Linked DNA regions of Homo sapiens: all the other regions are linked to region 4. The links come from fine-mapping of genetic effects on gene expression. A gene starts in region 4. Each other region holds a variant in brackets. All regions are shown on one strand. Distances are from middle to middle. Region 1 overlaps SORD (sorbitol dehydrogenase). Region 2 has its middle 94 kb from the start of TRIM69. Region 3 overlaps DUOX2 (dual oxidase 2). Region 4 holds the start of SORD (sorbitol dehydrogenase).

Region 1 (5,383 bases), 52 kb before region 4:
ATCCAGAAGACAAAGGACCCAGTTTCTTCAACATAACAGTGGCATGTGAACCAAAATGTAGGGGGAACTATAATAAAGAGGCTTAAGAAAGAAGAAAAAATAAAAAATAAAACAGGCTTAATATATCAACCGCATGCAATATGTTTAGATCCTGATTCCAGAAAAGCAAGTGTAAAAAAGTAAAGTTTTGGCTGGGCATGGTGGCTCATGCCTGTAATCTCAGTGCTTTGGGAAACTGAGGCAGGAAGATTGCTTGAGGCCAGGAATTCAAGAACACTCTGGGCCACATAGTGAGACCTTTTTAAATTTTTTTCTCTACAAAAAGTAGCCAGGCATGGTGGTGCATGCCTATAATCCCAGCTACTCCAGAGGCTGAGACAGGAGGATCACTTGAACCCAGGAGTTTGATATTGCAGTGAGCTCTGATCAAGACCCTGTCTTTGGGGGAAAAAAAAGTAATTTTTTCTGTTTTTTAGATGAGGGAAAATATGGCATGGATTGACGGGGTATTAGCTATTATGAAATTATTATTAGTTTTGTCAGGTATAGTAATGGGAATTATTTAATAATTGTGATTTTTTTAAAGTCCTCGTCTGTTTATGAGTAAAATGAAAAAAGTAAAGTACACTCCCATTAATGTTTACAAATGCATGCACATGTTTGATATGTATAGATTCATGGAAAGGGGCTGCAGGAAGCCCAGGAATTCATTCCTACCACCACCACAACCAACTAAGTGCTCAATCAATATTGATTGACTCAGTGAATCAGTCCCGGAACCAAGAATGTGAATTCCCCACAAGCTCCCCGACCTTGGGAGGCCCAGCAGCCTCTGTGTGCTCTGTCACCAGTGCCTGGCACTTGATTCACGCTTTCAGTCAACACTGAGGTCCCCACCCAGTCAGCTCCACGAGTGCTAGGGAGTGAAGACGTGTCAGGGCGGAGAGCTGGGAAGGACCCCACAGGCAACCTGGAAGCAGCGGACTGCTCCATGGACCCTAAAGGAGAAAGAGGACATGTTGGCTCCTCTAATTCCCTCTTGCAGCCCACCTCTGGCTACAGCAGATGCTGGTGTGAAGTCACCTCTGCACTCAGTCACTGGTTCTCTGACATCTTCCCCACCCAGTCTCCCTTGTGTAGCACAGTCCTGCCTCCTCCCTCCTGACTCCTATTGTGTGTGCAGGAGGCCTGTTGGGGAGTTGGTGGAGCCAGAGGTTAGGAGAAAGAGAGGCAAATAGGATTTATGGGATATTTGCCTTTCCTAAGAACTGTCCTCTGCTCATGATGTCAACCTAGGTTCAAGGTACAGAGGCCAAATAACAGGGAAGAAATGCTCAGAAATTAGCAGCCAGCTGGGACAGAGGCTGGGTCTGGCTACAGGCGGTGGGGCCTGGTCAGGGTCATCTCTGGGTGGCCTCCTCCACACACTGACTTCTACCTAGGGCTCAGGGAGGAGGAGGATGAAGGGGCAGCAGTGAAATGGCTTCACGAGGCATGCATAGGCTGCAGGAAGTGCCTCCAAGACACCAGCAGACATTCTCTGGTAGAGCCTCTGCCCCTCACTCCCAGCTTCCTTCTCTCTTAAAGCCCTGGCTGAAGCAGACACTGGAGCTCCTTCTCTGGGCACCTGAAAGGGGGCACAGGGCGTGAGGAAGATGTTTCCACCAAGACTGCTTAGTGCATCTTCTCATCAGTAGGAGCTGCTTGGTGGGGGTGGTGGCATGGGGAGCATCATTTGTCCTCTAGGACTGGACACCTCAGGCCTATGAGAGGCAGCATGTTGTAAAGGATTTGATGTCAGGATTCCTGGGTTCTGTCTAATCCTGGGCCATTGACTAACCCACTGTGTGATTTGCCAAGTCACTTCCCCAATCTGAGCCTCAATTTCCTCTCTCGTTAACTGAAGGGTTGTGTTGTAAGACAATCTTAAGGTCTCCTCTGGCATTTATATCTTCTTTATCTACAAAATGATTGTGTATGTGGCTTGTCATGAGGATTAGAGATAATTCATGTCAATGAAATTATATTTGGTACAGAAAATATGTAACCTTCAAAAATCCTGGGATCCTTCCCTCTGGGAAATGGGTAACCTGAGTCCATTCCCCACTAAACAGGACCATAAACAGCAGCATGAGTCAGATACCACCACCAATATTTATTACCCAAAGCAATCTGAAAGAATCGGGCACAAGGTCATGGCTTTCCCAGGTTACAAGAAAATCAGAACCTCTTCAAACTCACCCTCCACCCATAGCCAAAGTAAGGAATTAAAGGCTATAGCTCAAGCTATGTCATGGCTACTATATCCTCATTCTTGATGAATAGTCTCAAAGTCACAAGTTGGCATGATGC[G/A]ATTTAGGTCTAAATCTTACCAGAAAAAAAACCCACCATTAAAATAAGACAAGTTCATAGAAATCATTCCAACAGAAAGATACCAAGAGCCTTTACTGGTAATGAGAAGAGGAAAGATTTTCTGTTTATAATAACCAGAAAGAAATGGAATTGTCTAATAACCATCAATTGAGTATGAGCCTAGTTGAGTTGAGTATGAGTCTAGTATGGGATGCTAATCTTCTGGGGTGGGGGAAGTCCTGTGAGCTAACCAAACCCTCCTGGTCTCTGGTGAGGTCCACAAGTAGCAGTTTCCTGGTTGCCTGGTGACAAGGGACCATGCTTAGGGGTGGGCTGGGGCATGTTGGGGAGGGGGTCCTTCACTTGGCAAGTGAAATAACACAATTCTCAGAAGCTGTAGAAGAGGCAATCTTCAAACAGTGCTGAGTAGTCCTCTTACTTTTTCCACATTAGGGGAATGCAAACTGGTTTAACCTCACATGACATTTCCTTTTTTGTTTGTTTGTTTTTTTCATTTGATTGGTTTAAAAATTATCCTGGATCCAGGAAAGTGATGCCTTTTCTTATTCTCCTTTTATCATCAAAACAAACAGCCAATATGTCTCTAGAAACATTGCGTTCTAAACTGGAAGTGCTGACAAGCCTTCATCCCAGACCCTGAGTGGCAGATTTTCATGAAAATCAGCTTCTGGGCCAGTTAAGTCTTCATGAAGTTATCTTTTCATAACTCAGCCCTCATTCCCCTCTGGGTCAGTAGCAGTGGAACCAGGAAACCCAAGGGCCAGATTTCCTTCCTCAATGAAGGCACTCCAGGAAGAAGGGGAGTTCCTGGCACCTGCCTGCCAAACTCTGCTCTACTTGCTGAACTTTGCTCAGCATGAACAGGGCATTCTGGCTACAAGTTCCCCCAAACTATCCCAGATTGTATCTTTAAGGCACACCAATTCCTCTGCTTAAGGACTTCTGTTCACAATGAATTGTATTAGTTATTCTTAACATTCAAAAGAGAAAGTTCTGCATCAGAGCCCACCCATGTCCAGCCATTGTGCCCTGAGATCCCAAGACTGTGGGGATGAGGGCAGAGCCCATTAACATCAGGGATTCTGGTCACTGGGGTCACACTTGAGCATGATTTTCAACCCCAATCCCTTTTTAAATGTTTCAAAGGCCTCCAGAGCTTTCTCCAGAGGAAACCTATGGGTGACGAGGGGTTTTACATTCACAGACTTGGACGCAAGCATCGAAATCGCCACTGGCCACCTGTAAAAGAGCACGAGCATTATATTCAACCTTCAAGAGGAAAGAGCCAGGTGCCCCAAACTACCAAGCACTAGATCAGCTTGGCCGTATTTATTGATAGCACTGTGGTTCTGCAAAGCCAATTTTACAGGCCAACAACCCAGGAAAGGACCTTATGGCTTATGATTCAGGGGTACAGAGCCTATTTGCAATTGCCCCCACCCCTCACCCACCCGCTCACTCTGCCACGTCTGCCATGGAGCCTAGAATTCCTGTGGCATGAAGGTACAAGGCACATGGTGGAGGCCACTGGGAAAAGGCAGAGAAGCCGTGGGGAGGCAGCCCGGGACAATCCAGTCACACCCACTAACAGCTCAGCTTACTGGAAAACTGGCGCCCTGATGAGGGCATGGAGTTACAGCCTCTAAAGCCAGGAGTAAGGGACACTGCTGGGGAGAGGGGTCCCAGCCAGAGGGCCCCAGCAGGGGAGAGGGTGGAGCTGCAGAACATGGGTGGGGCAAACTAAGACCCTTTCGCTCCCCAGGGTGGGCCCTAGGGCTAAGGAACGGAAGCCACAGGACTTGATTTCTTCCTTTTGTCCTCCTTTCTCTCCTTCTTCCCTTTAAAGGGAGAAAATGGAGACCTGGCAACTTAAGAAAATAGGGGGAAAAAAGGGGCCTGGGGGGGATAAGCAGCAGACACTCAGTAAGACTATGCTTCAAAATCCCCTCCTTCCCTCCCTCCATCCATCCTTCTGTTCCTCCCATTCTTTAACTGGCAGTGAGTGTTCTCTCTTTGGATCCCTGTTATATCACACAGCTATCAGTGTGGCCAGGGAGTGCCCCCCATGAACAAACAGGCAGAGACTCATGGGCCCAGAGGCTGAGTGGGGCCTGCCATGGTCTTGCTGGAGGCTGGGCATCCCGGCTCACCCACGGCATACTCACGTGTTGCAGTATCGAAACACGCCCTTGATATCCACCTCCCGGATGGCTGCATGCAGTAGGGGTACGGTGGTCATCTCAGAGCCCAGCCCCACAAGCACGAGGTTCCCACCAGAGCGAGTGGCCTGTAAAGGAGGTAAAAACAAGAAAGCTCAGAAGATAAGAAATACTGACTTCCCACTTACAATAACATATTGTCATCACACAAGTATCTTCTGGTTGCATCAGCTGAGCATCCAAAAATTCCTGAGAATGTGATTTGTGTACACTGCTGAACTGCTCAACCTGCCAACCAAACTTAACTGAGCGGGAGAGTAAACACGGTTTTCTTTAAAGTGTATTGTGAAAACATACACTTAACCCATGGAGAACCAGGCACAGTGGGAACATCTTCCAAAGCTTTACAGATTCGGGACCCAATATTGGCTTCAGCCACCTCCACAGTCTAAGCACCTGTTCCTCCCCCAGAGCGCCCCTCCACAGGCAGCACTTTCATCAGAGCTGGAAGGAACCACTGGCCCTCTAAGCTCACCGGTGGTGAGAAAACTATAAACATGAGACAGATGGGCCACTTGTATTCTGTGGCTTAAAAAAGGCTTCATACATGCATGCAGGCTGGCAGTTAGAAATCTTTTTGTTCCAGAGATGTTTACCTCAACAGTATGAGCCATAATGGGTTTTGTCTTCCTTGAATGTTTATCTGCCTTATCAGTTCCCCACTTGGAGTGGGTCACAGGCAGCAGTGAAATTTCTCCTGAAAATTTCCCCAGAACTCCCTGTGAGTGCTGTGCTTGTTCCAGAGCTTTCTGGGGATCACTGTGCTCAGTGCGGTGAGAGACAGAAGAATG
Region 2 (7,972 bases), 190 kb after region 4:
ATGAATTGGCTGGGCACGGTGGCTCCTGCCTATAATCCCAGCACTTTGGGAGACCAAAGCCGGTGGATCACTTGAACCCAGGAGTTCGAGACCAGTCTGGGTAACATGGTGAAACCCCATCTCTACAAAAAAATACAAAAATTAGCCGGTGTGGTAGTGTGTGCCTATAGTCCCAGCTACTCAGAAGGCTGAGGTGGGAGGGTCACTTGAGCCTGGGAGGTCAAGAGTGCAGTGAGCCATGATTGTGCCACTGAACTCCAGTCTGGGTGGCAGAACAAGACCCTGTCTCAAAAAAAACAAGACCCCATCTCAAAACAAACAAACAAAAAGAATGAATCTGTGCCAGGCACAGTGTCTCATGCCTATAATCCCAGCACTCGGGAAGGCTGAGGCGGGTGGATCACTTGAGGCCGAAAGTTCAAGACCAGCCTGGCCAACATGATGAAACCTCATCTTTACTAAAAATACAAAAATTAGCTGGGTGTGGTGGTGCGCCCCCTGTAGTCCCACTTACATGGAAGGACGAGACAGGAGAATCACTTGAACCTGGGAAGCAGAGGTTGCAGTGAGCAAAGATCATGCCACTGCGCTCCAGCCTGGGCGACAGAGCGAGATTCTGTCTCAAAAAAAAAAAAAAAAAAAAAAAAAAAGGGAATTAATCTGGCGATTATTTTTGAACCCTTGATGGGAAACTAGGAAAATTTTTTTATTTGCGTGATCTTGGCTCACTGCAACCTCCACCTTAGAGAAATATTTTTGATAGTAAAGGGAAGGGCAACTCTTGGAACTTTCAAATTATACCAGCAAAGTGATGGCCTAGTCCCATCTATGAATAAGGTAGACCCTGCTCCCAGCCAGTGGGAGGAGTGAGCAGTGGTCTGCTCCCACACCACTGTGAGCCAGCAGTCTGCCTGCAGTAGGGTTGTAGCTAGCTGCCTTCTCTCATCCCCTGTTTCCAGCCATCTTTCCAGCCATCTGGAACAAGCCCTAGCAGCCTCAGAACGAATCATTCTGGTGACCCAGACAGTACGCTCACACTCCTTGTGGGTGTGATCTGGTGTTCCTCATACTTGTTTGTGATTTTCTTTGGCTGGCCAAATAAGTGATCACACGGCTTCCTAAGAGGGGTGATGGATGTAGAATAGACTTGCCACAATGGGCTAGCAGACTGCGGGACTCAGGTGACAGATTCTTATAAAAATCTGCATGGATCCAGTACCTTTTTACCATAGAAAAGGAAAATAAGTCACACATACCACACACATGCATGCCTTGCCCCCAACACACACACACACAGAAATTCACCTGTAATCCCATTACCGATTAGCCCAAGAGAACCACTATTAATATTTGGGTATAGAATCTTTTAGTTAGTTGGTTTTTTCTGAGACCATGCTAAATACGCTTCCTTTACCTACTCTTTTTTAAAAATCAGGCTGGGCACAGTGGCTCATGCCTGTAATCCTAGCACTTTGGGAGGCTGAGGCAGGCAGATCACCTGAGGTCAGGAATTTGAGATCAGCCTGGCCAACATGGTGAAACCCTGTCTCTACTAAAAAAACAAAAAGTAGCCAGGCTTGGTGGCGGGCGCCTGTAATCTCCACTACTTAGGAGGCTGAGGTGAGAGAATTGCTTGAACCCGGGAGGCGAAGGTTGCAGTGAGCTGAGATTGCAACACTACACTCCAGCCTGGGTGACAGAGCAAGACTCTGTCTCCAAAAAAAAAAAAAAATCAATATACTGTGAACATTTTTCCATGTCAATAGATAAAGAGTTATGGCGTAATTTTTAGTAGCCATGTAGTTTTTTAATCATGCTTTGTTGGACATTTCAGGTATTATTTTTCAGTGTTTTGTTTTCTGAGGGAGCTCACAAAATTGTTCTTAGGGGATGTGTACAAAAAGTAAACCCCCAAAGATATTCTGCATTGCTTTCATTCTGTGGGTCTGATTTTTATATTAAAACCATAGTGTCACATAGCATGCAGATACTATGGGGAAGCAGGTGTCTCAGGCAAATCCTTGGATACCTGAGTATCCTGGGGCTATCTGGGCACCTGGGCCAACCCAGGGAGCCAGCTCACTTAAGAACCCTCTCCAGGTGGTCCTCAGAGGGCACCTAAAAGGAATATGTCTCTCTCTGGGGGAGGTGTGATGGGTTCTCACGAAGGTAGGGGCAAAGAAAGAACAGGAAAACAAGTCCAGACCTTCTGAGATTTCTTATTTTCTGAGTAAGTTTGTGTTTCCTTGAATCCCGTGGTTCTTTGAGATTATCTCCACTAGTGCCCAGGAGTAAGTGGGAAAATTTTAGCTCTGAGGTTTGAGAGGATTAAATAGAACCCAGCACTAGGAGCGTATTTTATGTAGAGAATAATTCTTCATGGATTCATTCTCTTCTGCATTCAACAAACAGCCGCTAAGGTCTTATCATGCCAGGCACTGGGATAGATGCTAGAGACACACAAAAGATATGGTTCCTGTCCGTGGCCTGGACAAGTGGGAGAGCAGATGTTTAATATTTCACAATCTTATATCTTTTGCTTTGTTTAGGGGCAATCGGGGTAGTCACTTTGCTCGTGGCCAAGGCAATGGGAGCAGCTCAAGTAGTGGTGACTGGTAAGACTTTGTTCTTTATCAATCTCCTTGACTGGGAAACAGCTGGTCCTACTGTATGTGCATGTGTGAGGAGAGGTTATCCGTGACAGTGTGGAGGGGGTGAGTGTGTAGTGTCATATGGATTGTGGAGATATAGAGGAGTGTGAGTGTGTGTTTTGTGTTAGGAGAAGCTATGAGAGAGAGAGAGTTTGTGTGAGAGTGTGTGTGTGTGTGTGTGTGTGTAGCTGTATGGTGGATATGGGGGTATATGAGGGTGTAGAGCAGGGGTGTCCAATCTTTTGGCTTCCTTGGGCCACATTGGAAGAATGGTCTTGGGCCCCACATAAAATACCCTAACACTAATGATAGCTGATGAACTTTACAAAACTGTTTTTTAATTTCATAATATTTTTAGAGAGTTTACAGATTTGTGTTGGGCCATATTCAAAGCCATCCTGGGCTGCATGTGGGCTGCAGGTTGGACAAGCTTGGTGTGAAGAGTATGTGTGTTGGGCTCAACACCACCACCCATTGCACGAGAGCTTTGTTGCCATCAGATCTTACACCTCCATTTTCTTTTCTTCCTAATGAGTCATCAGATTTCTCTTGTTTGAAAGAATTTTTTTTTTTTTTTTTACCTTCAGATCTGTCTGCTACCCGATTGTCCAAAGCCAAGGAGATTGGGGCTGATTTAGTCCTCCAGATCTCCAAGGAGAGCCCTCAGGAAATCGCCAGGAAAGTAGAAGGTCTGCTGGGGTGCAAGCCGGAAGTCACCATCGAGTGCACGGGGCAGAGGCCTCCATCCAGGCAGGCATCTACGTGAGTGGGCTGAGGGCAGCTTTGGGGAATCAGCGTAGGGGAGTGAAGGAGGCAGAAGTAGGGAGTCAAACTTCTTTACCAGCTTGCTGCGTGAGCCCCAAGCCAAACTTATTCATCTTTTGCCATCTCTGTTTTCTTATCTCTAGTGTGGAGCCTGTACTTGAACTTGCCTTACATCCTCATTGGGCCATCTGAGGTTCACACAAGATAACAGCTATACATGGGCCTTGAAAAATGTTAAGGACACACACTTTGGGGACGCAGTTGGCTTCATGATCATATCTGTGATGTTAAAAGTGCAGTAGTTTTGGTAAAAAGATCAAGAAGAAAAACAGGGAACCATGCCTTAATTGTATGTGGGAAATCTCTGTCTTATTTTATTGAGGAAAACTGCAGTCTTTTAGTCATAGATATAAAGTGACAGTCATTCAGTTAGTCATGAAGGTGAGGTGATTTTCCAGGGTCACAGCTGACTACTGCTTGTTTTGTCTCCCAGACCTAGGAACAGATAAGCTGCCAATGCCTGATTCGCCCCTCAGCGACCCACCAGCCACTTATGGGAAGTTGGCAGGAAGTTGGAGGTGGTGGGAGGGAGTGGCACTGACAGATCAAAGTATGAGGAAACGAAGGGAAAATAACAACTTCCAGGTTCCAAGCCCTACTGTATGCCAGGTTCTCTGCTGTACTTTATAAACATGAGGCCTAATCTGCACAACAGCCCTGAAAACCAGTTACCGTTTTATGCTGAGGGATTTGTGGTTTGTTTGAGGCAAGCCAAGTCAGGCCCAGGCCCAGCCCTGCCAGGCCCCAGTGCCTGAGTTGCCCCGCTGCTTAGGAGAGGAAGGGAAGGAGGGCACGAACAACCATGCTAGGGTGGGGGGACAGGGCCAGGGCTGGAGAGGGTAGCAGGCAGCCGCCACCACAGGGGTCTCCTGTCCCTGCCTCCCAGACAGCCTCCCCAGGTAGCGTGGGCTTCCTCCTTCCTTCTGAGGCTCACAGCAGGAGGGCACTTTGCATCACATGAGACATTCTAGGGAAGGCTGACCCACCAAGCTGAGTAGCAGAGCTGCCTAGACCTCCTCCTACTAAGTTGCCCAGCGGCCTTGGGAGCTGAGGAACCAGTGGGGGAGAGGGAGGAGCGGGTGCCACCTTGGCAGTGTCGTGAGTTTCAGCTGGAGTCCGCCAGCCCTCTGCTTCACTGTCATAGGCAGTGGTCGCCATGTGGGAAGGGGCAAAAAGAAGCCGAAGCTCAGAGAGGAACAATGGATCTGTGTGTGATTGATCTACCCATGGTATGTCTTGGGCACCTACCATGTGCCAGGCTTTGTGCTGGGCACTTTGAGGGCTAAGACATGAGTAGGTTGCATCTGCTGTCTTCAAGTTGTCAGCAGGTAAGTGACCTCCACCC[C/T]GCAGAGAGGCAGTATAAGCTGGGGGACTTAAAGGACATGGCTCTCCTTCCTCTTGTGCCCTGCCCTTAGAGCATTTGGAACAGTTGGCATTTCCACTGTTGATGGTGGGGGCCTGGTTGCCAGGCTACCTGAGGCAGGCATGGAGGTGAATGTGACCCATGGGCCTCACCAGGCCTGAAGCAGTGTCTCTCCTGACGTCACGCATGACGGGTGCTGTAGAATGCTATAGGCCACCCCGCCAATGAGCAGGCTAGGTGGCTGGACCAAATATGGACAAATCTGAGCATCGCCGTCCTGCCAGGTTATGACTGGATAGTGTTTGTGATGAGACATGGCAGATGCCTTGGGGTAGAATTGATGTCATATCCTTGATGCAGATGCCATACCTACAGGATAGTGTCCAGGTGGTTCCAGCATTCCTTGACCTTGGGTCAGCAAACTGCTGGCATCTTGGCAGCTTGGAATGGCCAGTTGGTGTTCCTCCTCACCACCAGGTAGAGAGGAAGTGCTGATAAGGAAGTAGTTTCCCTAGAAAATGGGCTGAGAGGGCACGTCCAGGGTGCCACAGCTCTGAAGCAGCAGCGCTGGGAGTCACTCCCACACCACTCAAACCCTGAGTTCACCTCTTGCTCACGGCACCACAGGCCTCTCTCCATGGTGTATCCTTCATCTCAGAAGTGGAGGCTGTGATCGTGGTGTATCCTTCATCTCAGAAATGGAGGCTGTGACATGTGCCTTTCTCTAGTTCCACTGTTTAGCACCTAGAATGGTCCCAATAAATGCTTGCTGCTGACTATAATGAACAACCAGCATGATTGAATTATCCATTGTTCTGTCTCTCACCGCACTGAGCACAGTGATCCCCAGAAAGCTCTGGAACAAGCACAGCACTCACAGGGAGTTCTGGGGAAATTTTCAGGAGAAATTTCACTGCTGCCTGTGACCCACTCCAAGTGGGGAACTGATAAGGCAGATAAACATTCAAGGAAGACAAAACCCATTATGGCTCATACTGTTGAGGTAAACATCTCTGGAACAAAAAGATTTCTAACTGCCAGCCTGCACGCATGTATGAAGCCTTTTTTAAGCCACAGAATACAAGTGGCCCATCTGTCTCATGTTTATAGTTTTCTCACCACCGGTGAGCTTAGAGGGCCAGTGGTTCCTTCCAGCTCTGATGAAAGTGCTGCCTGTGGAGGGGCGCTCTGGGGGAGGAACAGGTGCTTAGACTGTGGAGGTGGCTGAAGCCAATATTGGGTCCCGAATCTGTAAAGCTTTGGAAGATGTTCCCACTGTGCCTGGTTCTCCATGGGTTAAGTGTATGTTTTCACAATACACTTTAAAGAAAACCGTGTTTACTCTCCCGCTCAGTTAAGTTTGGTTGGCAGGTTGAGCAGTTCAGCAGTGTACACAAATCACATTCTCAGGAATTTTTGGATGCTCAGCTGATGCAACCAGAAGATACTTGTGTGATGACAATATGTTATTGTAAGTGGGAAGTCAGTATTTCTTATCTTCTGAGCTTTCTTGTTTTTACCTCCTTTACAGGCCACTCGCTCTGGTGGGACCCTCGTGCTTGTGGGGCTGGGCTCTGAGATGACCACCGTACCCCTACTGCATGCAGCCATCCGGGAGGTGGATATCAAGGGCGTGTTTCGATACTGCAACACGTGAGTATGCTGTGGGTGAGCCGGGATGCCCAGCCTCCAGCAAGACCATGGCAGGCCCCACTCAGCCTCTGGCCCATGAGTCTCTGCCTGTTTGTTCATGGGGGGCACTCCCTGGCCACACTGATAGCTGTGTGATATAACAGGGATCCAAAGAGAGAACACTCACTCCCAATTAAAGAATGGGAAGGCCGGGCGTGGCGGCTCATGCCTGTAATCCCAGCACTTTGGGAAGCCGAGGCAGGCGGATCACGAGGTCAGGAGATCGAGAGCATCCTGGCTAACACGGTGACCCCTGTCTCTACTAAAAATACAAAAAATTAGCCAGGCATGGTGGTGGGTGTCTGTAGTCCCAGCTACTTGGGAGGCTGAGGCAGGAGAGTGGTGTGAACCCAGGAGGCAGAGATTGCAGTGAGCGGAGATCGCACCACTGCACTCCAGCCTGGGCAACAGAGCCAGACTCTGTCTCAAAAAAAAAAAAAAAGAATGGGAGGAACAGAAGGATGGATGGAGGGAGGGAAGGAGGGGATTTTGAAGCATAGTCTTACTGAGTGTCTGCTGCTTATCCGCCCTAGGCCCCTTTATCCCCCAATTTTCTTAAGTTACCAGGTCTCCATTTTCTCCATTTAAAGGGAAGAAGGAGAGAAAGGAGGACAAAAGGAAGAAATCAAGTCCTGTGGCTTCCGTTCCTTAGCCCTAGGGCCCACCCTGGGGAGCGAAAGGGTCTTAGTTTGCCCCACCCATGTTCTGCAGCTCCACCCTCTCCCCTGCTGGGGCCCTCTGGCTGGGACCCCTCTCCCCAGCAGTGTCCCTTACTCCTGGCTTTAGAGGCTGTAACTCCCTGCCCTCATCAGGGCGCCAGTTTTCCAGTAAGCTGAGCTGTTAGTGGGTGTGACTGGATTGTCCCGGGCTGCCTCCCCACGGCTTCTCTGCCTTTTCCCAGTGGCCTCCACCATGTGCCTCGTACCTTCATGCCACAGGAATTCTAGGCTCCATGGCAGACGTGGCAGAGTGAGCGGGTGGGTGAGGGGTGGGGGCAATTGCAAATAGGCTCTGTACCCCTGAATCATAAGCCATAAGGTCCTTTCCTGGGTTGTTGGCCTGTAAAATTGGCTTTGCAGAACCACAGTGCTATCAATAAATACGGCCAAGCTGATCTAGTGCTTGGTAGTTTGGGGCACCTGGCTCTTTCCTCTTGAAGGTTGAATATAATGCTCGTGCTCTTTTACAGGTGGCCAGTGGCGATTTCGATGCTTGCGTCCAAGTCTGTGAATGTAAAACCCCTCGTCACCCATAGGTTTCCTCTGGAGAAAGCTCTGGAGGCCTTTGAAACATTTAAAAAGGGATTGGGGTTGAAAATCATGCTCAAGTGTGACCCCAGTGACCAGAATCCCTGATGTTAATGGGCTCTGCCCTCATCCCCAGTCTCGGGATCTCAGGGCACAATGGCTGGACATGGGTGGGCTCTGATGCAGAACTTTCT
Region 3 (5,721 bases), 73 kb before region 4:
GTTCTTCCAGACCGTCCCAGGTAGGAAACGTGGGACCTGGGGGTTCTGTCTGAGGACTTCTGCTTTTGTCTCCATCTCTCTGTGAATACTCACTTGTCTATACTGGCCATGGGGTCTGTTTCTAGCCTTCAGGACAAGCCCCAGCTCAAATCCCTCCAGGCAGGCTTTTCTGGGGGCCCCGGAGGGATGAGAGAGGAAGGAGGGAAGGATAGGGGAATGTGCTGTTGTCTTTTCAGCCCAAGCTGAAGTCCTGAGACTACTCACTGGCCCTGTCTTCCTGCCCCCAGGTATGACAGGTGTGCTTCTGCTCCTGGTCCTGGCCATCATGTATGTCTTCGCCTCCCACCACTTCCGCCGCCGCAGCTTCCGGGGCTTCTGGCTGACCCACCACCTCTACATCCTGCTCTATGCCCTGGTGAGGGACTTCCCTGGGCCAGCCCATGGAGCAGGGAGCTCAGGATGGGACAGGAAGGTGAAAGAGGGAGAATTGGATCCAAGATCTCAGAATGAGACTTTGAGATTTAAGACCCCAGACCTCAGCCCTATCTCCCCGGCACAGGCCTAGTGCCTGGGCAAGAGGGGATGCCGGGCAGGGGCCTGGCTGGGCCTGAGTTGTACTAACTGGCCGTGTCTCCAGCTCATCATCCATGGCAGCTATGCTCTGATCCAGCTGCCCACTTTCCACATCTACTTCCTGGTCCCGGCAATCATCTATGGAGGTGACAAGCTGGTGAGCCTGAGCCGGAAGAAGGTGGAGATCAGCGTGGTGAAGGCGGAGCTGCTGCCCTCAGGTATCAGGCCCAGCCTGACCTGGGTCGGGAGCGACAGAGGCCAAATCTTCAGACATGGGGAGACAGTTCACCAGGTCTCCTGACCCCATCACTGCCTCTGACTCTGTCTCCAAAAACAACAACAACAAAAAACCACTCTCGGGGGTTCCTGAAGGTTTCCTGATAGAAGTAGACCCAGAAAGGGCTGTGCTTAGCTCCCAGGAGACTTGCAGATGGTGAGAAGTGACCTGAGAAGAGGTGGCTGAACGTGCATACAGAGGGGTTTGAGGATGGGAAAGGGCCCCACATGTGTGGCCTGGGTGCAGGGGAAGTGCAGGGCAGGAAGCCACATATGCCTGTCCCATTCCTTCTCTCAGAGACAGGCAAATGCCCAGATTGCCAGTCTGGGTTGTTGAGAGTCAGTGCTGGCCAAAGTCGGGATTGGTATCATCATAGAGGGTGGCAAAAGATGATTTTATGTATCTCAGGACTGTCTAACCTTCAGGACTCATGTTGTAAAAAAATTAATCTCATTGCAATGTTATTTCAATTGAGATTACTTAAGGACAAAATCTCAGAGTGGTGTTAGTATGCCTTTCTACTCTCCAGCACTTGCTGATCTCCTTTTTCAATGAAGAGATCAGGCCTGAGGCTCAGCTATGGTACAAACAGTATCCAGCTAAAATTTGGTAACAAAATATGTTGTCTTCTATGTAGGACACATGATACTGGTTTTCCACTTACCTTAGCAATAAAGTTCCCTGCCAAGATTAATTGAATTGGAAAAGTTAGTCAATTTAAAGAAAAGTGTTAGATAAATGATAGTGCAGGAGGTGTGTAGAAAGGTAACCCTCAAATGGAGGTCTGGTAGCCACTGAGATGGTCCCTGGTGAGCCTGAGTCCCTTTACCCAGCAGGTTGGTATTCAAGGCAGTGGTATGAGGCCTGGGCCTTCCATGGGAAGAGGGAGTAGAGAGGAGGAGAGGGGCTGGAACAGGGGAGCAGAGAAACCCAGCTCTTGCATTACCTGGGAAACAGAGAAGGGGACCCTCCTACTCCCAGCCCCAGGAGCCCCGCTTGCTCAGACCATGTGACTACTCCCCAGGCCTCAGGGGTGTGAAGAGGACAGGTGCCTATCAGTCCTCAGGTACCAGGAGCAGGCCTTCTCATCTGTGCTTTTCCCTGTCTATGACCTCCAGGAGTGACCTACCTGCAATTCCAGAGGCCCCAAGGCTTTGAGTACAAGTCAGGACAGTGGGTGCGGATCGCCTGCCTGGCTCTGGGGACCACCGAGTACCACCCCTTCACACTGACCTCCGCGCCCCATGAGGACACACTCAGCCTGCACATCCGGGCAGTGGGGCCCTGGACCACTCGCCTCAGGGAGATCTACTCATCCCCAAAGGGCAATGGCTGTGCTGGATACCCAAAGGTGCCCGTCACTGGGAACCCTGCTTCCGGGCCTCTGGCACTGGCAGAGGATCTCTGCCCTTCCCTATCCTGAGACTAGAAGCTCCAGCCGTCCCAAAGCCAGCCTGGGAGAGGACCGGGGTGCCTC[A/G]GAAAAGACTAGGATGTTCTGTATCCTCCCTCTGCCTGTGTCTCCGTTTCTGGTCTCAGAGCTGGGGCAGGGTCAGGCTCATTTCATCTCCCCCCTCTCTTGGCAGCTGTACCTTGATGGACCGTTTGGAGAGGGCCATCAGGAGTGGCATAAATTTGAGGTGTCAGTGTTGGTGGGAGGGGGCATTGGGGTCACCCCCTTTGCCTCCATCCTCAAAGACCTGGTCTTCAAGTCATCCTTGGGCAGCCAAATGCTGTGTAAGAAGGTGAGCATCCCTCCCTCATTCATCAAATGGGGCATAGGTGGCCGAATTGTGACCCGCATCAAGTGGTGGAGCATGAGAGAAAGCTCCTGGCTCCAGGAACTGAGTCTGAAGGGGTCATTCTTACCCAGTGGTTGAGATGCCAAACTTGGAGGGAGGTTGGTGGTATAGCCAGAAGGGCCTCTGCTGGGACCTGTCAGTTGGAAGCCTGGGATCAGGCTGGTGGGTCCTGCCACAGCTTTGGTGTCTGCAGGTGGTCTGGGGCTTCCCAGCCTCTCAGGTGAAGGCACCTGGGATCTAGGGAGGCTGAACTGAGCTGGGTCCTGATCTCCAGCCCTGTGTCCCCAGATCTACTTCATCTGGGTGACACGGACCCAGCGTCAGTTTGAGTGGCTGGCTGACATCATCCAAGAGGTGGAGGAGAACGACCACCAGGACCTGGTGTCTGTGCACATTTATGTCACCCAGCTGGCTGAGAAGTTCGACCTCAGGACCACCATGCTAGTATGTCAGGGCCCGCCAGGCAGGGCAACTTGGCGGGCAGATGGATTGGCAGCGTAAGGCAGGATGGCCAGGGCAGGTGGGTGGACGGCCAGGCTGAGCTGGCAGGAGGCACAGAGCTGATGGCCTGATCCTCAGCCTCCAGCTCCCTCCCCTCCCCATTCTCTGTCTCTTGGGCTATGTGGGCTGGCTCGGGCTGAGTGCTGGCCCTGACTGTCTTTGGTCTGACCTGCCCCTGTGCCCCCAGTACATCTGCGAGCGGCACTTCCAGAAAGTGCTGAACCGGAGTCTGTTCACGGGCCTGCGCTCCATCACCCACTTTGGCCGTCCCCCCTTCGAGCCCTTCTTCAACTCCCTGCAGGAGGTCCACCCACAGGTCAGTCCCACTCCCTCCCACCCTGGGACTCTGGCCTTCTCCTGCCAGGACATCCTGGCCCTGAAGCACCCTGCCACTCTGTTCTGAGCAGAGAACTCCACCCGATTGCCTGGCCCCAGGATGAGGTCAGCTGTTAAAGGGGGACTTCCACCCCCTCCACGTTAAGCCTCCTCCTCAAGGCCTGGGCTTGAAGCCTTAGTCATTCCAGCCAGGCTCAGGAAGCAGCTTTTCCCAAGGAGAGTGAGCACCTTTAGGCTGCAGGCCCCTCTCTCTCTCCAATCTCCTGACAGGTGCGCAAGATCGGGGTGTTCAGCTGCGGCCCTCCAGGAATGACCAAGAATGTAGAGAAGGCCTGTCAGCTCGTCAACAGGCAGGACCGAGCCCACTTCATGCACCACTATGAGAACTTCTGAGCCTGTCCTCCCTGGCTGCTGCTTCCAGTATCCTGCCTTCTCTTCTGTGCACCTAAGTTGCCCAGCCCTGCTGGCAATCTCTCCATCAGAATCCACCTTAGGCCTCAGCTGGAGGGCTGCAGAGCCCCTCCCAATATTGGGAGAATATTGACCCAGACAATTATACAAATGAGAAAAGGCAGGAGACTATGTTCTACAATTGCAGTGCATGATGATTATAAGTCCACCTGTTTATCAACGGCACCATTCCTGCAGCCCTCCAGACTTCCTGCCCTTAGCAAGTGCGCAACCAGTCAGGATCTCCCAAAGAAGATAAAGACCACTCCTCACCCCAGCTCAAGCCATGGCAGGCGTGGCAAGCAAAGTGGGGAGGAGACAGTCCCTGCTTGTGACAAGTGTGGAGGTGAAAAGGTACAATAGTGCTTGTCTCCGATAGCTCCCCACATCTCTAATTGACTTCCACAAAATCGATGCGTTGCTTTGGTATTTGCTTGGACTGACATTTGAGGGAGGAGGAGGCTGGGATCCTCTGGCTGAGAATCTCCTCAGAGCCCAGTGCAGAAGCTGTGATGCTTAGAACCTGGACAGCCCGACTGCCTCAACTCTGTCTCCAGGTCTATTCCCTCCAGCTCCAAAAGGAGCAGCCCTACTTCTACCCCTTCCCGTCCCCAAAGTGTCAGCAACTTTGAGGAGGGCACCAGGAAACAAAGATGCCTCCCCAGCCCTGATATTCTTGATGTCACCAGTGATACCCACTGCCCTGACCCCTGGGCAGGCCCCTCTCTGCATCTACTGGAGTGGTCCCTGGGCTCTGGGGCTGAAGGATTCCAGCCTCTCTGCCAGATATTCAGTACTCGATCTCAATTCCCCTCTTCCACAAGAGTTGGGTGACCAGCTGTCCTAGTTTGCCCAGGACTCTCCCTGTTTTAGCACTGAAAGTCTCTTGCCCCAGGAAACCCCATCAGTCCCAGGCAGATTGGGACAGCTGGTCACCTTACGCAAGAGCCAGGCTGAAACATCCCCTCCATACTCAGCTCTTTAACTTTTCTTTTCCTTTTTCATCGGGCTCTTTCCTAAAAAGCTGAGCTGTAAAATATTTTACATCGAGGTATAATAAATAATCATGTACATGTTTTACCACCACCCAGGTCAAGACATAGAATGTTTCAACATTTCCATCACCCCAGAAACTCCCCTTGTACCCCCTTCCACTTCGTCTCCCCTAGCTCCTAGAAGCAACCACTGATGTGATTTCTACCAAATCCAGTTTTGGTCCTACTAAATATACTCTTTTGAGACTGGCCTCTTTTACTCACCATAATGCCTTTGTAATTCATCCATGCTGTTGTGTGTATCAGCAGTTTGTTCCTTTTCATTGCTGAGTAGTATTCTATTGTAGAGATGTACCACAGTTTGTTTATTCTTCTGTTGATGGACGTTTGGGTTGTTTCTAATTTTGAATGATTATAAATAAAAATTCTGTGAGTGTTCTTGTACCTATGTTTTGGTGGCCATCATGCACTCATTTCTCTTGAGTATGTATCTATGAGTGGAATTGCTGGGTCATACAGTTATCCAGCCAGTAGGACCTGTGGAGGGAGAGTTTCAGACCAGGTTTGTCTTCTCACTGGCCCCACCCTACCTCTTCAGCCAGGCCAAATGCCTCTGGTTCCCAACCCCCTCTGTTGAAGGTATCTCTCTGACAAGGCTGGAAGAGCACCAATCAGAAGTCAAGAGACCTGGATTCTAGTGCCCACTTTATCTGCAAATAGCTATGGAGGGAAATCCCTTAACTCCTCTGGGCCTCTTCCTCATTTATTCAAATGTCTGTGAGAGTATTGG
Region 4 (7,411 bases):
GAAATTTCTCAAAGGCACCTTGTGTCCTGTCCCAGAGACATCTTTTTTTTTTTTTTTTTTTTGACATAGTTTTGCTGTCATTCAGGCTGGAGTGCAGTGGTACGATCTCAGTTCATTGCAATCTCTGACTCCCAGACTCAAGCGATTCTCAGCTTCCCAAGTAGCTGGGATTACAGGCATGTGGCACCACACCCAGCTAATTTTTGTATTTATAGTAGAGACAGTTTCACCGTGTTGGCCAGGTTGGTCTCAAACTCCAGACCTCAAGCGATCTGCCTACCTTGGCCTTTCAAAGTGCTGGGATTACAGGCATCAGCCACCACACCTGGCCTCCAGAGACATCTTAAACTCAACTTTTCAAACCTGATCTCATCATTTTAATCTACTCTGACTAGTAAATGACGCTACCACTTCCCATTCTCAAACTGAGCCTAGGTGTTTTCCTAAATCCTCCTCTGAACTCTTTTACCCAGCTAGTGTTCCAGCACACAACCAAAGGTGAAATTCTCTAGCCCATCATATTTTCTAGATACTTCAGGTTACAGCCACCCCAACCTAGCCCCTAATCCAGTCAGAGAGTGGGTTCTAATGCAAAGCTGATGAGATCAAGGTTAGTTCGCTGCTGCTCTAATCTTCAAAGCTTTGTCTACGGAACCATAGTAGAGGTAGTCTGCCTGAGCAGTGGAAGACCATGAGTTTGAGGTAAGATGAAGGAGAACTTAACTGTGTTTCTGCACCTTAGGTGCATGACTTTTAAGCAGGCTCTGAGCAGATAGAGGGCCAAGGGCCCCTCCCTGTGGCGTCTTTTCTCTCTGAGGCCTCCATCAAAGCCCTCGGGCTCTGTCATAATTGTTGACTTTATCTGTCTGCCTCCCTCAGTAAACTTGGGAGCAGGGGCTGTGTCCTCCTTTCTGGGCCCTCAGCCCAGTGCCTGGCACATGGCAGGCACCCTTTCATGAGTGAATGTTTGTGGAATGAAGTACTGAGTTGGAAATCACTCTGCAAGCTGGGTAGAGCTGGACCACTTTCCCTTACTCATAATACCATCTGGCATTTGCAACAGTAAACACTAACAGCCTCACTTTAATTCAGGACCTTGGGTGGAGGCTCCAAAGAGTGGAATGAGCACTAGAATGGGGAGTCTGAACATCTGAGTCCTTGTCGTGGCTCTGTTAACTAACAAAACCTATCACCTTGGGTATGGTACTTTCTTCAACTGAGGAGATGGAGAGTCAGCTGGGACAAGGGTTCTATAGAGGGGCTTAGAGCGGCTTAAAGGGAGTCCTTGAGCAGTCTGAAATTGTTGCCAAACTCAGTCTATTTGCATTCTGTGGAGGGGACACCACAGATTCTTAAATAGTCAAGAACTGCTAACCTGGATAAGCTTCTGAATTACTGCAGTTTACATACTGACGCATGTACTTTGAGGGAAAAGAGGTACAGGGGAGCAGCAGAGATGGCTGGCACTCATCCCACATACCCACTGCCATCCCAGGCCCATCTGAGAGGGACTTTGTCAAGGGAGGCTTGGCATGACTAGGCTGCTGACTCAGCCACTTCCTAAACTTTGGTGCCACAAGCCAGGGAGCAAAAGGCAGGGTCTAAGGCAGAGGACACACATACAGAATGCTCCTAAAGGGACAGAGGCACGGGATTGGAAAGAAAAACTGCTGGAAAGTGAACCAGACAGGGTCTTAGGGAGAGAAGGATCCTTACAGACAAGGGAGCTATCAAGATCCACAAGTCTGGCACAGGCAAGGGGAACAGCAGGGGTTCTGGAGATGGAGGCCTAGACTGGAAGGAAAGGAGAAGGAGCTGGCACTTCCTGAGCACGTACTAAGTGCTGAGTACTCTTGTGATCATCATAATCCTGCAAGGGAGGTTTATCAGTCCCAAGCAAGGGAGTTAAATACAAGTTCTGCTGTTTCTAAGTGTCCTCTGGCCCCCCTTTCTCTGCTCTGCACGGTCTGCCCCGATAATTCAGACAGCCTTAGCATTTCCTTTGGAAAGGTCAATGACAAGAGGCTGGACTATGAATCTGCAGCTGGCAAAGGAGAGAGAAAGCTTCATTCAAACAGTTTGCAACCGTCCTGGGCACCGGCCACGTGCCAGCCACGGGGCTAGGTTCCGGGAGGCACACGACTAGATCCCTGCCCTTCGCAACAGCCACTACCTGCTGCCCCCACACCCCGAGGGGAACCAGCTGGGATCTGGGCAGCCAGGGCGCTTAAGGTGCGGGGCCGGCGCCAGGCTGGAAGTGGGAAGCCAGGACTATGGCTGGGCTCAGAGGAGAGTGAGGCAGGATCGGTATGCTTCCCACCCTCCTTCCCAGCTTACCAGGCGCAAGTCCCCCGGTCCGTGCACCACCAGGGAAAGGTTGTTGGGCTTGGCCGCCGCCGCCATGGAGCTCTTTTGGCTCTGGAGTGCGGCCTGGAAGGCGCGGGACGTTTGGTCGCTCTGGTGGCGCTACCCAGCCGAGGGTCCAGGGCACTGGATGGAAGGTGGGGCCTGGGAGAAGCGCCGCACGCAGGGGCGGGACTAGGCTTCCTCCTTTGTGCCAGCCTGGGCGGCGCTAGCGTGGAGGGGCGGGGCTTCCCAGCCTCCTCCAGACCCGGAGGCGGGGCGGGGCTTCGGGAGGGGGCTGGGAGCGAGAAGCCCGGGTGCTGGCTCCATCTGCAGCGCGCTGTTTTTTTTGTTTGTTTGTTTGTTTGTCGCCGAGGCTGGAGTACAGTGGTGCGATCCCGGCTCACTGCAAGCTCTGCCTCCCGGGTTCAAGCCATTCTCCTGCCTCAGCCTCCCGAATAGCTGGGACTACAGGCGCCCACCACCACGTATTTTTGTTTAGTAGAGACGGGGTTTCACCGTGTTAGCCAGGATGGTCTCGATATCCTGACCTCGTGATCCACCCGCCTCCGCCTCCCAAAGTGCTGGGATTACAGGCGTGAGCCACCGCGCCGGCCCTGCAGCGCGCTGTTTTTGCCGCCTCACATGCAAGCACACACGGCTGCCTTGAAAACCGCCTGCAGAGGCAGTAGGCACCAGACCAGCGCTCTCAAACGTTAGCTGCAGAAGAATTGGGGTGGGGAATGTGAGGCGCTGTTGAGAATGCACATTCTCAGGACCAGCACAGAGATTCTGATACAGTAGGTCTAGGTCTGAGGTGCTGCCTGAGGGTCCATATTCCTAGCAACGAGAATGCTGAGGCTGTGGGTGGAGCACGGTGTGCACTTTGCGAGACAGGTGCTACCATGACGCAGCGTCCACGTCGGCCCTTTGTCTCCAGCCCCCAGGAAAGGGCCTGGCACGAGTAGGAGTAAATGAATTCGTGCATCATTACATGGGCCTGGTGCTTAAGTATAAAAAAGACATGAGGCCGGGCGCAGTGGCTCTTGCCTGTAATCCCAGCACTTTGGGAAGCCGAGGCAGGTGGATCACCTGAGGTCAGGAGTTCGAGACCAGCCTGACCAATATGGTGAAAACCCCGTCTCTACTAAAAATACAAAAATTAGCCGGGCATGGTGGCATGCGCCTTAATCTCAGCTACTCGGGAGGCTGAGACAGGAGAATAGCTTGAACCTGGGAAGCAGAGGTTGCAGTGAGCTGAGATCATGCCATTCAACACCAGCCTGGGCAACAAGAGTGAAAATCTGTCTTTAAAAAAAAAAAAGCCATGAAATGGAATTTGTGAACCTCTTTCTCTCAACTGGATCTGCTGCTTCTATTCAAAGCAGAGTTTCTGCCCAAACTCTTCCTTCAAGCCTCTCAGCCCTCTGAGAAACAGTGAGGTTTTACTCTCTGAGGAGAGAGGCGCTTCTAGATAGGCCTAAGTCTATAAGGCCCCTCCCTCCTTTGAGGATAATGCTCAGGATTTCATTCCCTTACAGTCCCCCCTCCCCAATATGTAACCGCCCAATGGATTCACCTTGCCTGCTGCCTAGACAAAACTAATTTATCAAGACAGGGGAACTGCAATAGGGAAAGAGTTCATGCAGAACCAGCTATGCAGGAGACTGGAATTTCATTATTGCTCAAATCCGGCTCCCCAAGCATTCGAGCATACGGGGACTCAGAGTTTTTAAGGATAGTTTGATGGGTGGGGAAAGGCCAGTGAGTCAGGAGTGCTGATTGTTTGGGTCAGAGATGAAATCATAGGGGATCTAAGCTGTCTTCTTGGACTGAGTCAGTTTCTGGGCGAGGGCCACAAGGTCAGATAAGTGAGTTTATCAATCTGGTTGGTGCTACGCCTTGAGGGACCGGTGCCAGTATAGGCTGTATTTGTTCCTTGCTGAGGGCCCTGGTTCCTCTGGCTAAGATTAGGCCTAGATATTTGACTTGTTGTAGGCAGAGCTGGGCTTTCAGTTTAGACACCTTGCCCGCTTGATTACCTAGAAAGTTCAAGAGATCTAGAGTAGCCTGCTGGCATGAGGCTTCCAAATTGGTAGCCAAAAGTAAATCATCCAGATTCCGTTCCAAGATGGCCAAATAGGAACAGCTCCGGTCTGCAGCTCCCAGTGTGATCGATGCAGAAGACGGTGATTTCTGCATTTCCAACTGAGGTACCTGGTTCATCTCATTGGGACTGGTTGGACAGTGGCTGCAGCCCATGGAGGGTGAGCCGAAGCAGGGAGGGGCATTGCCTCACCCGGGAAGCGCAAGCGGTTGGGGGATTTCCCTTTCCTAGCCAAGGAAAGCTGTGACAGACTGTACCTGGAAAATCAGGACACTCTCACCCAAATACTGCACTTTTCCAACGGTCTTAGCAAATGGCACACCAGGAGATTAAATCCTGTGCCTGGCTCAGTGGGTCCCACGCCCACAGAGCCTTGCTCACTACTAGCACAGCAGTCTGAGGCAGCAGCCTGGCAGGGGAGGGGCGTCCGCCATTGCTGAGGCTTGAGTAGGTAAACAAAGCAGCCGGGAAGGTTGAACTGGGCAGAGCCCACCGCAGCTCTGCAAGGTCTGCTGCCTCTGTAGACCTCACCTCTGGGGGCAGGGCATAGGTGAACAAAAGACAGCAGAAACTTCTGCAGACTTAAACGTCCCTGTCTGACAGCTCTGAAGAGAGCAGTGGCTCTCCCAGTACAGTGTTTGAGCTCTGAGAATGGACAGACTGCCTCCTCAAGTGGGTCCCTGGCCCCCATGTAGCCTAACTGGGAGACACTTCCCAGTAGGGGCCAACTGACACCTCATACAGGCGGGTGCCCCTGTGGGACGAAGCTTCCAGAGGAAGGATCAGGCAGCAACATTTGCTCTTCTGCAATATTTGCTGTTCTGCAGCCTCCACTGGTAATACTCAGGTAAACAGGGTTTGGAGTTGACCTCCCGCAAACTCCAACAGATCTGCAGCTGAGGGACCTGACTCTTAGAAGGAAAACTAGCAAATAGGAATAGCATCAACATCAACAAAAAGGACATCCACACCAAAACCCCATCTGTAGGTCACCAGCATCAAAGGTAGATAAAACCACGAAGATGGGGAGAAACCAGAGCAGAAAAACGGAAAATTCTAAAATCCAGAGTGCCTCTTCTCCTCCAAAAGATCACAGCTCCTCATCAGCAACGGACCAAAGGTGGACGGAGAATGACTTTGATGAGCTGAGAGAAGTAGGCTTCAGAAGGTTGGTAATAACATACTTCTCCCAGCTAAAGGAGGATGTTCAAACCCATCGCAAAGAAGCTAAAAACCTTGAAAAAAGATTAGACGAATGGCTAACTGGAATAAATAGTGTAGAGAAGACCTTAAATGACCTGATGGAGCTGAAAACCATGGCACAAGAACTATGTGATGCATGCACAAGCTTCAACAGCCAATTCATTCAAATGGAAGAAAGGATATCAGTGATTGAAGATCAAATTAATGAAATAAAGTGAGAGGAGAAGTTTAGAGAAAAAAGAGTAAAAAGAAATGAACAAAGCCTCCGAGAAATATGGGACTATGTGAAAAGACCAAATCTACATTTGATTGGTGTACCTGAAAGTGACAGGGAGAATGGAAACAAGTTGGAAAACACTCTTCAGGATATTATCCAGGAGAACTTCCACAACCTAGCAAGACAGGCCAACATTCAAATTAAGGAAATACAGAGAACACCACAAAGATACTCCTCAAGAAGAGCAACCCCGAGACACACAATTGCCAGATTCACCAAGGTTGAAATGAAGGAAAAAATGTTAAGCGCAGCCAGAGAGAAAGGTCGGATTACCCACAAAGGGAAGCCCCTCAGACTAGCACTGGATCTCTCAGCAGAAACTCTACAAGCCAGAAGAGAGTGGGGGCCAATATTCAACATTCTTCAAGAAAAGAATTTTCAACCCAGAATTTCATATTCAGCCAAACTAAGCATCATAAGTGAAGGAGAAATAAAATACTTTACAGACAAGCAAATGCTGAGAGGTTTTGTCACCACCAGGCCTCCCTTACAAGAGCTCCTGAAGGAAACACTAAACATGGAAAGCAACAACCAGTACCAGCCACTGCAAAAACATGCCAAATTTTAAAGACCATCAATGCTAGGAAGAAAATGCATTAAATAATGGGCAAAATAACCAGCTAACATCAAAATGACAGGATCAAATTCACACATAACAATGCATGATGGGTTCAAACATCCTTCTTTAGCTGGGAGAAGTATGTTATTACCAACCTTCTGAAGCCTACTATATTAACCTTAAATATAAACGGGCTAAATGCCCCAGTTAAAAGACATGGACTGGCAAATTAGGTAAAGATTCAAGACCCATCAGTGTGCTGTATTCAGGAGACCCATCTCACCTGCAGAGACTCACATCGGCTCAAAATAAAGGGATGGAAGAAGATCTAACAAGCAAATGGAAAGCCAAAAAAAAAAAAAAAAAAGCAGGGGTTTCAATCCTAGTCTCTGATAAAACAGACTTTGAACCAACAAAGATCAAGAGACAGAGAAGGCCATTACATAGTGGTAAAGGGATCAATTCAAAAAGAAGAGCTAACTATCCTAAATATTTATGCACCCAATACAGGAGCACCCAGATTCATAAAACAAGTCCTTAGAGACTTACAAAGAGACTTAGACTCCCACACCATGATAATGGGAGACTTTAACATCCAACTGTCAATATTAGACAGATCAACAAGACAGAATGTTAACAAGGATATCCAGGACTTGAACTCAGCTCTGCACCAGGCAGACCTAGTAGACATCTACAGAACTCTCCACCCCAAATCAACAGAATATACATTCTTCTAAGCACCACATAGCACTTATTCCAAAATTGACCACATAGTTGGAAGTAAAGCACTTCTCAGCAAATGTAAAAGAACAGAAATCACAACACACTGCCTCTGAGACCACAGCGCAATCAAATTAGAACTCAGGATTAAGAAACTCACTCAAAACCACAAAACTACATGAAAACTGTACTGTTCCTGAAT

Evidence for each region. PIP is the estimated chance that this variant, and not a neighbour inherited with it, causes the effect.
Region 1: its variant is the best candidate, but not a certain one, in a credible set for the expression of SORD in NK cells (Gilchrist 2021, PIP 0.89).
Region 2: its variant is the best candidate, but not a certain one, in a credible set for the expression of SORD in whole blood (TOPMed, PIP 0.89).
Region 3: its variant is the best candidate, but not a certain one, in a credible set for the expression of SORD in transverse colon (GTEx, PIP 0.64).

The regions. Positions count from the first base shown.
Region 1 is chr15:45,071,594-45,076,976 of GRCh38, reverse strand. SORD (sorbitol dehydrogenase) reads right to left here. Exons shown (of 9, transcript NM_003104.6): 8 at 4,539-4,660; 9 at 1-3,612. The coding sequence ends at 3,447. Among named protein-coding and RNA genes, the nearest start is that of DUOX2, 40 kb to the left of the region's middle. The variant G/A (reference allele first, on the strand shown) is at 2,353.
Region 2 is chr15:44,826,970-44,834,941 of GRCh38, reverse strand. It overlaps the pseudogene SORD2P. Among named protein-coding and RNA genes, the nearest start is that of TRIM69, 94 kb to the right of the region's middle. The variant C/T (reference allele first, on the strand shown) is at 4,822.
Region 3 is chr15:45,092,308-45,098,028 of GRCh38, reverse strand. DUOX2 (dual oxidase 2) reads left to right here. Exons shown (of 34, transcript NM_001363711.2): 27 at 1-20; 28 at 288-415; 29 at 638-791; 30 at 1,969-2,201; 31 at 2,434-2,592; 32 at 2,938-3,093; 33 at 3,338-3,466; 34 at 3,757-5,379. The coding sequence ends at 3,879. Among named protein-coding and RNA genes, the nearest start is that of DUOX2, 19 kb to the left of the region's middle. The variant A/G (reference allele first, on the strand shown) is at 2,328.
Region 4 is chr15:45,018,276-45,025,686 of GRCh38, reverse strand. SORD (sorbitol dehydrogenase) reads right to left here and starts at 2,492. Exons shown (of 9, transcript NM_003104.6): 1 at 2,338-2,492. The coding sequence starts at 2,403. RefSeq lists an enhancer at 1,123-1,773 and a silencer at 2,543-2,712.